2 linked regions of the Homo sapiens genome follow. The protein of the gene in region 2 purifies or fractionates together with the protein of the main gene of each other region. This does not show direct contact. Each region holds a gene or a part of one and is shown on either strand. Other genes may lie near its edges.

Evidence for each region.
Region 1: the proteins of ZBTB25 (region 2) and POC5 purify together in Homo sapiens (co-immunoprecipitation; one large-scale study listed by IntAct). This does not show direct contact.

The regions. Positions count from the first base shown.
Region 1 is NC_000005.10:75,703,629-75,707,451, reverse strand, and holds part of POC5 (centrosomal protein POC5), read left to right. Parts: intron 1-1,664; coding exon 1,665-1,748; intron 1,749-3,823. UniProt on the Homo sapiens protein: Essential for the assembly of the distal half of centrioles, required for centriole elongation. Acts as a negative regulator of centriole elongation.
Region 2 is NC_000014.9:64,479,600-64,483,422, forward strand, and holds part of ZBTB25 (zinc finger and BTB domain-containing protein 25), read right to left. Parts: 3' UTR 1-3,823. UniProt on the Homo sapiens protein: May be involved in transcriptional regulation.

The sequences.
Region 1 (3,823 bases), on a different chromosome or scaffold from region 2:
AGTACTTGTTCCAACAGTTTTATGCCAGGATTAACCTGAAAACTAAATGCCCAAGACTAAAATTAAAGATGGTAACCCTGAGAGTCTCTTAAATTACTTTACAAACCTCATGCTAGTGCTTTATCAGCAGTATTTATATGGGCATGGAGGACTGTTTGAATAATTATCACAAGGTGAACCCATCTGTGGACCATGTCAGCAACAGAACTGAAAGCTACTATAAACCAGGATGTGTGTTGATAGATGAGTGAAAAGTGGAGAAAAGAGGATAAAGCTCCTTTTACCTCCATTCCTTATTCAGGTGAAGACAACATCCCAAACTCTAAATAAATGTTCTTTCAAAGGGCACAGAAAGCCTTCCTAAAACAGTCCTGATAAGGACCAGTTATCACACTATAGGCGTAACTCCAAGGATCCCTGTCCTTGAAGGCGCATGACATAGCCTACTCAGAGGCCAAAGGCTCCTGGGCTTCTGCTAAGTCATAGCTCTAGTGTCTGTTGTCTCTCATTCTCTGTAGACGTGGATTTTTCACTGTTCCTCTGTCTTTGGCCTGTTGCAGTGGAACAACAAACAGGACCACAGGATGAGAGCCTTAAAATACAGGCCAGGCAGTGGCTCATGCTTGTAATGCCAGTACTTTCAGAGGCTGAGGCAGGAGGATTGCTTGAGCCCAGGAGGTTGAGACAAGCCTAGGCAACATAGCAAAACCCTAGCTCTACAAAAAAATTAGCCGGGCAGAGCAGCCTATAGTCCCAGCACCTTGGGAGGCTGGGGTGGGAGGATTGCATGAGCTCAGGAGTTCAAGGCTGCAGTGTGCCATGATTATGCCACTGCACTTCAGCCTAGGCAACAGAGCAAGACTCTGTTTAAAAAAAAAAAAAGAAAAAACTTTCGAGATGCTGTAGTCAACAGTTCAAGGTAATCATCTGGGATTTAAGACCATTGTTCTTTTCTCTTATGTAAGATAGCATTTATTTATTCTCTGCCATTTCCAAAAAGGATTTGAGATTAAAACATACGTTATATAGTAAGTTTAGATATCCTTTAGTCATCTTGATTCACAAGTAGACTTTGTTAAAGTCTTCTATGTAAATTCATCATCCCACATTCTCTTTATTCTTGGTATCTCAGTTGCTTGATAGAAGGCATGGTATGTGGAAATTGGCAAAGTATGTGTAAGCCTCTAACAGTCATTCTTGAGAGGTTTTTCCCAGTTTCCTTTTTGCCATCTGTTGACTACAGGTTCCTGAAGTGGAAGCAAATGTTTTGGGGGAGCCAGTGCCACTTGAGTTTGATTGTGGCTAGTGAAAAGCAGCGGGCCTCTGGAAATACCCAGTGTCATAAGAGAGCAGATCCTTTTCTAAGTTCTAATGTCATTCACCCACTTATTCTCTTAGTGTGAATTGAATGCTATAGTAGACTACATTATCTCTCATCTATATTTGGTGCATAAGTTGGAGCTTATCAATGATATAGTAAGTCTTTTTCTAGTCTCAGATTTTTATCTGTTCTTGTCCTTTGTTTTAGTGTTCCTATATCCCCAGCATGTTGTATTTTGTTTGTTCTAAAATATTATGTACTGCTACCTTCTTAAATTATGTGTGATTAGACATTTTATTTAAGAGTGGTTCAGTTTAATTTTAAAAAGCTTTCTTTTTGGCAGGAAATAACTCTGAAGTAAGAGAAACTGCAATAGAAGTTGGAAAAGGATGTGATTTCCATATTTCAAGTCATTCAAAGACAGATGGTATGATTTTTCTTTAGCTTATTTGTATTAATATACAACATTTTGTGGTTTGATGAATATTATCTATGTAGTAAGAGGAATAATTTCAGCATATTATTTATTAGCAGGATTTTAAAATGCTATTATTGCTAATTTAAGTGATAATATTTAAAATAATTTGATAAGATACCAAAATAGTACAATTAAGACAGGTCAATGCATTATAGTGTGTAGTATCCTTTCTTAAAATTGCTAAGTTAGAGGGCAAGTCTTTTAAAAGATTTAATGGGATATTAGATAGTTTGGCCAATTCAAGTTTTTATGTAAACCAATGCACTGTTTCCCAACTTTCAGGCATTTGCGTACCAGTGTAAGGATTTTCATCCTATCTTTATGCCACCTGTTACGCCATCATTTAGTGTTTTTCTTTAAAAGTCTGCTTTGTCTTTGTTAAAAGGGAAGATTAGCAAATCTTAAAGAGGCTTTTTGGGGGGATTGTTTTTTGTATTTTTTTAATTTTGTTTGGTTTTTGAGACAGGATCTCACTCTGTCACCCAGGCTAGAGTGCAGGGCTCCCTGCAGCCTCAACCTCCTTGGCTCAAGTGATCCTCCTGCCTCAGCGCCCCCTCCCCCAGTAGCTGGGACTACAGGCACATGCCACCACACCTAGCTAATTTTTAACTTTTCTGTAGAGGTGGGATCTCACTATGTTGCCCAGGCTGGTCTCAAACTCCTAAGATCAAGTGATCCACTTGCCCTGGCCTCCCAAAGTGCTGGGATTACAGGCATGAGCCACCATGCCTGGCTTTAAAGAACTTTTAAAAGCATACTAGAACTGGACTGAGACTTTTTTCTTGACTAGTCAGAATAATTAATTAAAATGTAATATTGTGGAATATTTTTCTATTTAATGTTATTTAATGTGGTAACCATTTTTGTCACCACGTAAGTAATGCCTCTAACCCTTAGTTTCCTCACTTGTAAGTAGAAGTCTTAGGCATCATAATCTCTGACAGCCCTTACAAGTTCTGAAGTTACATGATTTGATTTCTTAAAAGGTAAGTGTTGAGATATTTTTTAAATTGAAAAGCAGAGTCTATCGCTTTCTTTGTGAGTACAGATCTAGTTGGCAAAATCAAGTAAAAGAGAATATTCATGTACATTGTCATTCCACCTGTTCTTTGGGTTTCTTAACCATCCTCAGAACATGCAGATAGCATTTCATAGTATGACTAGCCCAGACCTTGTGTTATGTTTTTTATACCAAACACACATGTTAGGGAATTATTTTCCCTTTTGCAAAGAAGTCTTTACATAAGCAGAATATGTTTGCAAAAAAACTAAAATCTTACAAATTTTAAAAAAGAATTCTTGAAAGATTTAAGTAACAAGTTCTCTATCATAGATTCATCTTTCCTTCAGTAGGAAGAAAGCTCTTCCATCTTTGTTATTAGGATGCTCGTAGCAAATGTGAGATATGTGACAAGTGATGACAGATAGTCTCTAATTCCAGCATAAATATGTGAGAAAATATTAACTTTTCTTTCTCAGTGCTTTTTTTTTTTTTTTTTGAGACAGAGTCTCGCTCTATCACCCAGGCTAGAGTGGGTGGCACGATCTCGGCTCACTGAAACCTCTGCTTCCCGGGTTCAAGCAATTCTCCTGCCTCAGCCTCCCAAGTAGCTGGGACTATAGGCACGTGCCACCATGCCTGGCTAATTTTTTGTATTTTTAGTAGAGATAGGGTTTTACCATGTTGGCCAGGCTGGTCTTGAACTCCTGACCTCATGATTCGCCCACTTCAGCCTCCCAAAGTGCGGGGATTACAGGCATGAGCCACCGTGCCCAGCCTTTCAGTGCTTTTTTAGAAATAGATACCTGTTCTCTTTAGGGCCCTGACTCTCCCCCACCTCCCTGGATATGGGCAGGGGATGAGCGTTTTATATATATGCACATACATATAGAGATGTGTACATTTCTCACCTCTACATTGAAGCCTAACAGTGTACTTAACAACAGAGTATCTGCAAAACTAAATTATGAGTCTCTTTCTACTTAAATTGTTTAATTTTAATAGGTTTTTTGTTTGTTTTTGT
Region 2 (3,823 bases):
ATCAGTTGAAGGCCAGAATATAATAAAAAAAGAGACTTTCTCTGGCCTGACTGCTTGAGCTGCAATTATCGGTCTTTTCTTCCCTTTGGACCCAAATGGAAACATCAGCTCTTCTTGAGTTTCAAGCCTGCCAGCTTTTGGACTGGAACTTATGCCATAAGCTCTCCTGGTTCTCAGGTCTTCAAATTCAGATTGGAACATCACTGACTCCCCAGCCTCTCAGCCTCCCAACTGCAGATCTTGGGACTTCTCAGCCTCCATAATTACATGAACCTATTCCTTATAATCAATCAATCTCTTTCTCTCTCTCAGTTCTACCTGTTGTTTCTTTCTTTTTCTGGAGAATCCTGACTAATATACCTCAGTTGAGAACTACTATTGTGGATCATGTTACTGGGGGCAAAAGGCGATACAGTAGACTGTAAATAGAGAAGAAAGAAGCAGCTGGGCGCGGTGGCTCACGCCTGTAATCCCAGCACTTTGGGAGGCTGAGGCAGGTGAATCACAAGGTCAGGAGTTCGAGACCAGCCTGGCCAACATGGTGAAACTCCGTCTCTACTAGAAATACAAAAAATTAGCCGAGTGTAGTGGTGGGAACCTGTAATCTCAGCTACTCGGGAGGCTGAGGCAGGAGAATAGCTTGAACCTGGGATGTGAAGGTTGCAGTGAGCCGAGATCACTCCACTGTACTCCAGCCTGGGCAACAGAGCAAGACTCCATCTCAAAAAAAAAAAAAAAAAAAAAAAAGAAGAAGCAAAGCAAGAAACTTCTGGGAAATGACGAAATACTACCTTTCTTTCCAGAGACAGCAGTTGGAAAGCATTTGATTAGGACGTCAATTTTCGATTAACACAGATTATGGTCGGTAAGAATTAGGTCCACAAATGCATTTTTGCATCACACCTCCAAAATGTTACCCAGTACAAAGACTACTTGCCTCAACACTAGGAACACAACATTTGGCAAACACTGATGTAAAATAAGAACACATTCTATAAGCTAAGCTAATAAACTTGTTTTTGATTAAGTCACATTAATTTGTCTTGATAAAATATATGAAATTCATTGTTTCTTGCTCTGTCGCCAGGCTGGAGTGCAGTGGCGCAATCTCGGCTCACTGCAACCTCCGCCTCCCGGGTTCAAGCAATTCCTCTGCCTCTGCCCCCCTAGTAGCTGGGACTGCAGGCACGTGCCACCACACCCAGCTAATTTTTTGTGTTTTACTAGAGACAGGGTTTCACCATGTTGTCCAGGATGGTCTCGATCTCCTAACTTCATAATCCGCCCGCCTTGGCCTCCCAAAGTGCTGGGATTACAGGTGTGAGCCACCACACCCTGCCTTTTTTTTTTTGAGACGGAGTCTCACTCTGTCGCCCAGGCTGGAGTGCAATGGCGCAATCTCGGCTCACTGCAACCTCCATCTCCCGGGTTCAAATGATTCTGTCTCAGCCTCCCAAGTAGCTGGGACTACAGACGCGCACCACCACACCTGGCTTATTTTTGTATTTTTAGTAGAGACAGGGTTTCGCCATGTTAGCCAGGCTGATCTTGAACTCCTGACCTCTGGTGATCCGCCCACCTCGACCTCCCAAAGTGCTGGGATTACAGGCGTGAGCCACTGCCCCTGGCCAAAATTTTTGGCAGAGATGAGGTCTCACTATATTGCCCAGGCTGGTCTCGGACTCCTGGGCCTTGGCCTCCCAAAGTGCTGGGATTACAGGCATGAGGCACCATGCCCGGCAGATACACAACTTTCTAAAAGAATGTTTCTGAAGCAAATTCACAGTACATTAGGTGGATGAGTTTAGCCACACAATGTATTATTGATTTTGGTCTCCTGTATTAGCTATGTGTTACATGTACTTTGAAGATTTTTCAGTGGGTCTTTTTTATTGAACAAGTTTTTATAATCTAAGTTTATTTTAAAGTATAAGTTTATATTTGATCCATTCTGACTAAATGACTTTATTTAGCACAAAATAGAGGAGTTGATGACAGTTAATGTCAATTGCACCAGACCAATACTTAACTAATTAATCAAGTGCAGTACAAATACATACTGAAGCACAATGAATTCTTCCAGGTCTTCAAGACAAAAATCACAGTTTGTAATTCCTTGTATTTAAGACATCCAGGTTTGGGACTGTGCAATCTCACCAGTTTTCAAAATGTCCAACCATACAAACACAGAAGTACAGCAGAGAGAAATCATTTACAGACTTCACTCTTAAGAAATCAAAAATTAATAATTTAAGTGCCACAAATCTATATGTAGTTCAAAATATACAAAGACACAAATTACATTATGAAAATTCTTCACATGGCCCATTTTTACATCAATTACTACAAAAAATGGACATTTATCAAGTATCTGACTCACAACATCAAGAATGTGCCTGTACAAATAAATGTTAACGAAATTACACATTTTTCACACTATCTTTTTCCACGATTAATATGTATTTCCTTCAATTTTCAGTGAAGACTTTTCTAATAATACTATTATTACCTTCACCCCATTTCCTGTCCTCATCTACTATTTAGATCACCTACATCAAAGAAATAAAAATAGGCTGGGCCCAGTGGCCCATACCTGTAATCCCAGCACTTTGGGAGGCTGAGATAGGCAGATCACAAGGTCAGGAGTTCGAAACCAGCCTTGCCAACATGATGAAACCCCATCTCTACTAAAAATACAAAAATTAGCTGGGTGTGGTGGTGCGTGCCTATAGTTCCAGCTACTCGGGAGGCTGAGGAAGAAGAATCGCTTGAACCTGGGAGGCGGAGGTTGCAGTGAGCCGAGATCGCACCACTGCACTCCAGCCTGGGCAACAGAGCGAGACTCCGTCTCAAAAAAGAAAAAAAAACAAAGGTATTTATTTATTGTTTTTGTTCCTTTTCCTTTGTGTAAACAAAAACAATATATTTGGGAGAACTTTCAATAAAGCTGAAATTGACAAAGTTTTATTCCCAATAATGCCAAAGAACTAGTATCCTCCTTACTGAAGGCTAAAAAGAAACAGTGATGATTAAATTACAGTAGAACAGGAATTCTAGCAACAGTATTGTTTCTAGTTATTTGTAAAAAATAACAATGAGTTCTGTCAATTAGTTATTGAATATTAGATAGTACATTACTGCTTTTAAGAACATTTTAGAATTTATAGGCTGAAATACTAAAGTTAATAGGTCTAGCTACAGAATAAATGTCGTTTATATGGTTGATTTTAATCAATAATACTGAGAGAACTTAACACGTTTAATATAAATCCTCACAACACCCCTGTGAGGTAAGTATTGCTTACACCCACTTTACGGATGGGAAATCAGAAAGAGCAAGAAGTAACAATCTCAAGAGTTATAAATAAAAAAATTTTTTGTTTTCTTATAAGGCAGACTGTGCTGAGTTCTGATGATACGCTAATAAGAACAAATACTAAAACAGTCTCTATTTTTCTCCAGAAAACAACTGCGTGAGATTTCAAAAGAAGGAAAAATTTTAAGCTGACTCAAGGGGAAAATGTTTAGTATCTGCCTGATACACACGAAAGTGCATATGACATTTCCAGTTTCAAGCTTGGTAATCATTATGCAAACTGCACTATACTATTAGGATACTGGCTAACAGTATAGCTCCATTTTGTGGAGATGTAGTCAAAAAATAAAGGTTTTAGCTGGAAGAACTTTTTTTTTTTTGAGATGGAGTCTCGCTCTGTCACCCAGGCTGGAGTGCAGTGGTGCGATCTCCGCTCACTGCAACCTCTGCCTCCCGGGTTCAAGCTATTCCACTGCCTCAGCCTCTCGAGTAGCTGGGATTACAGGT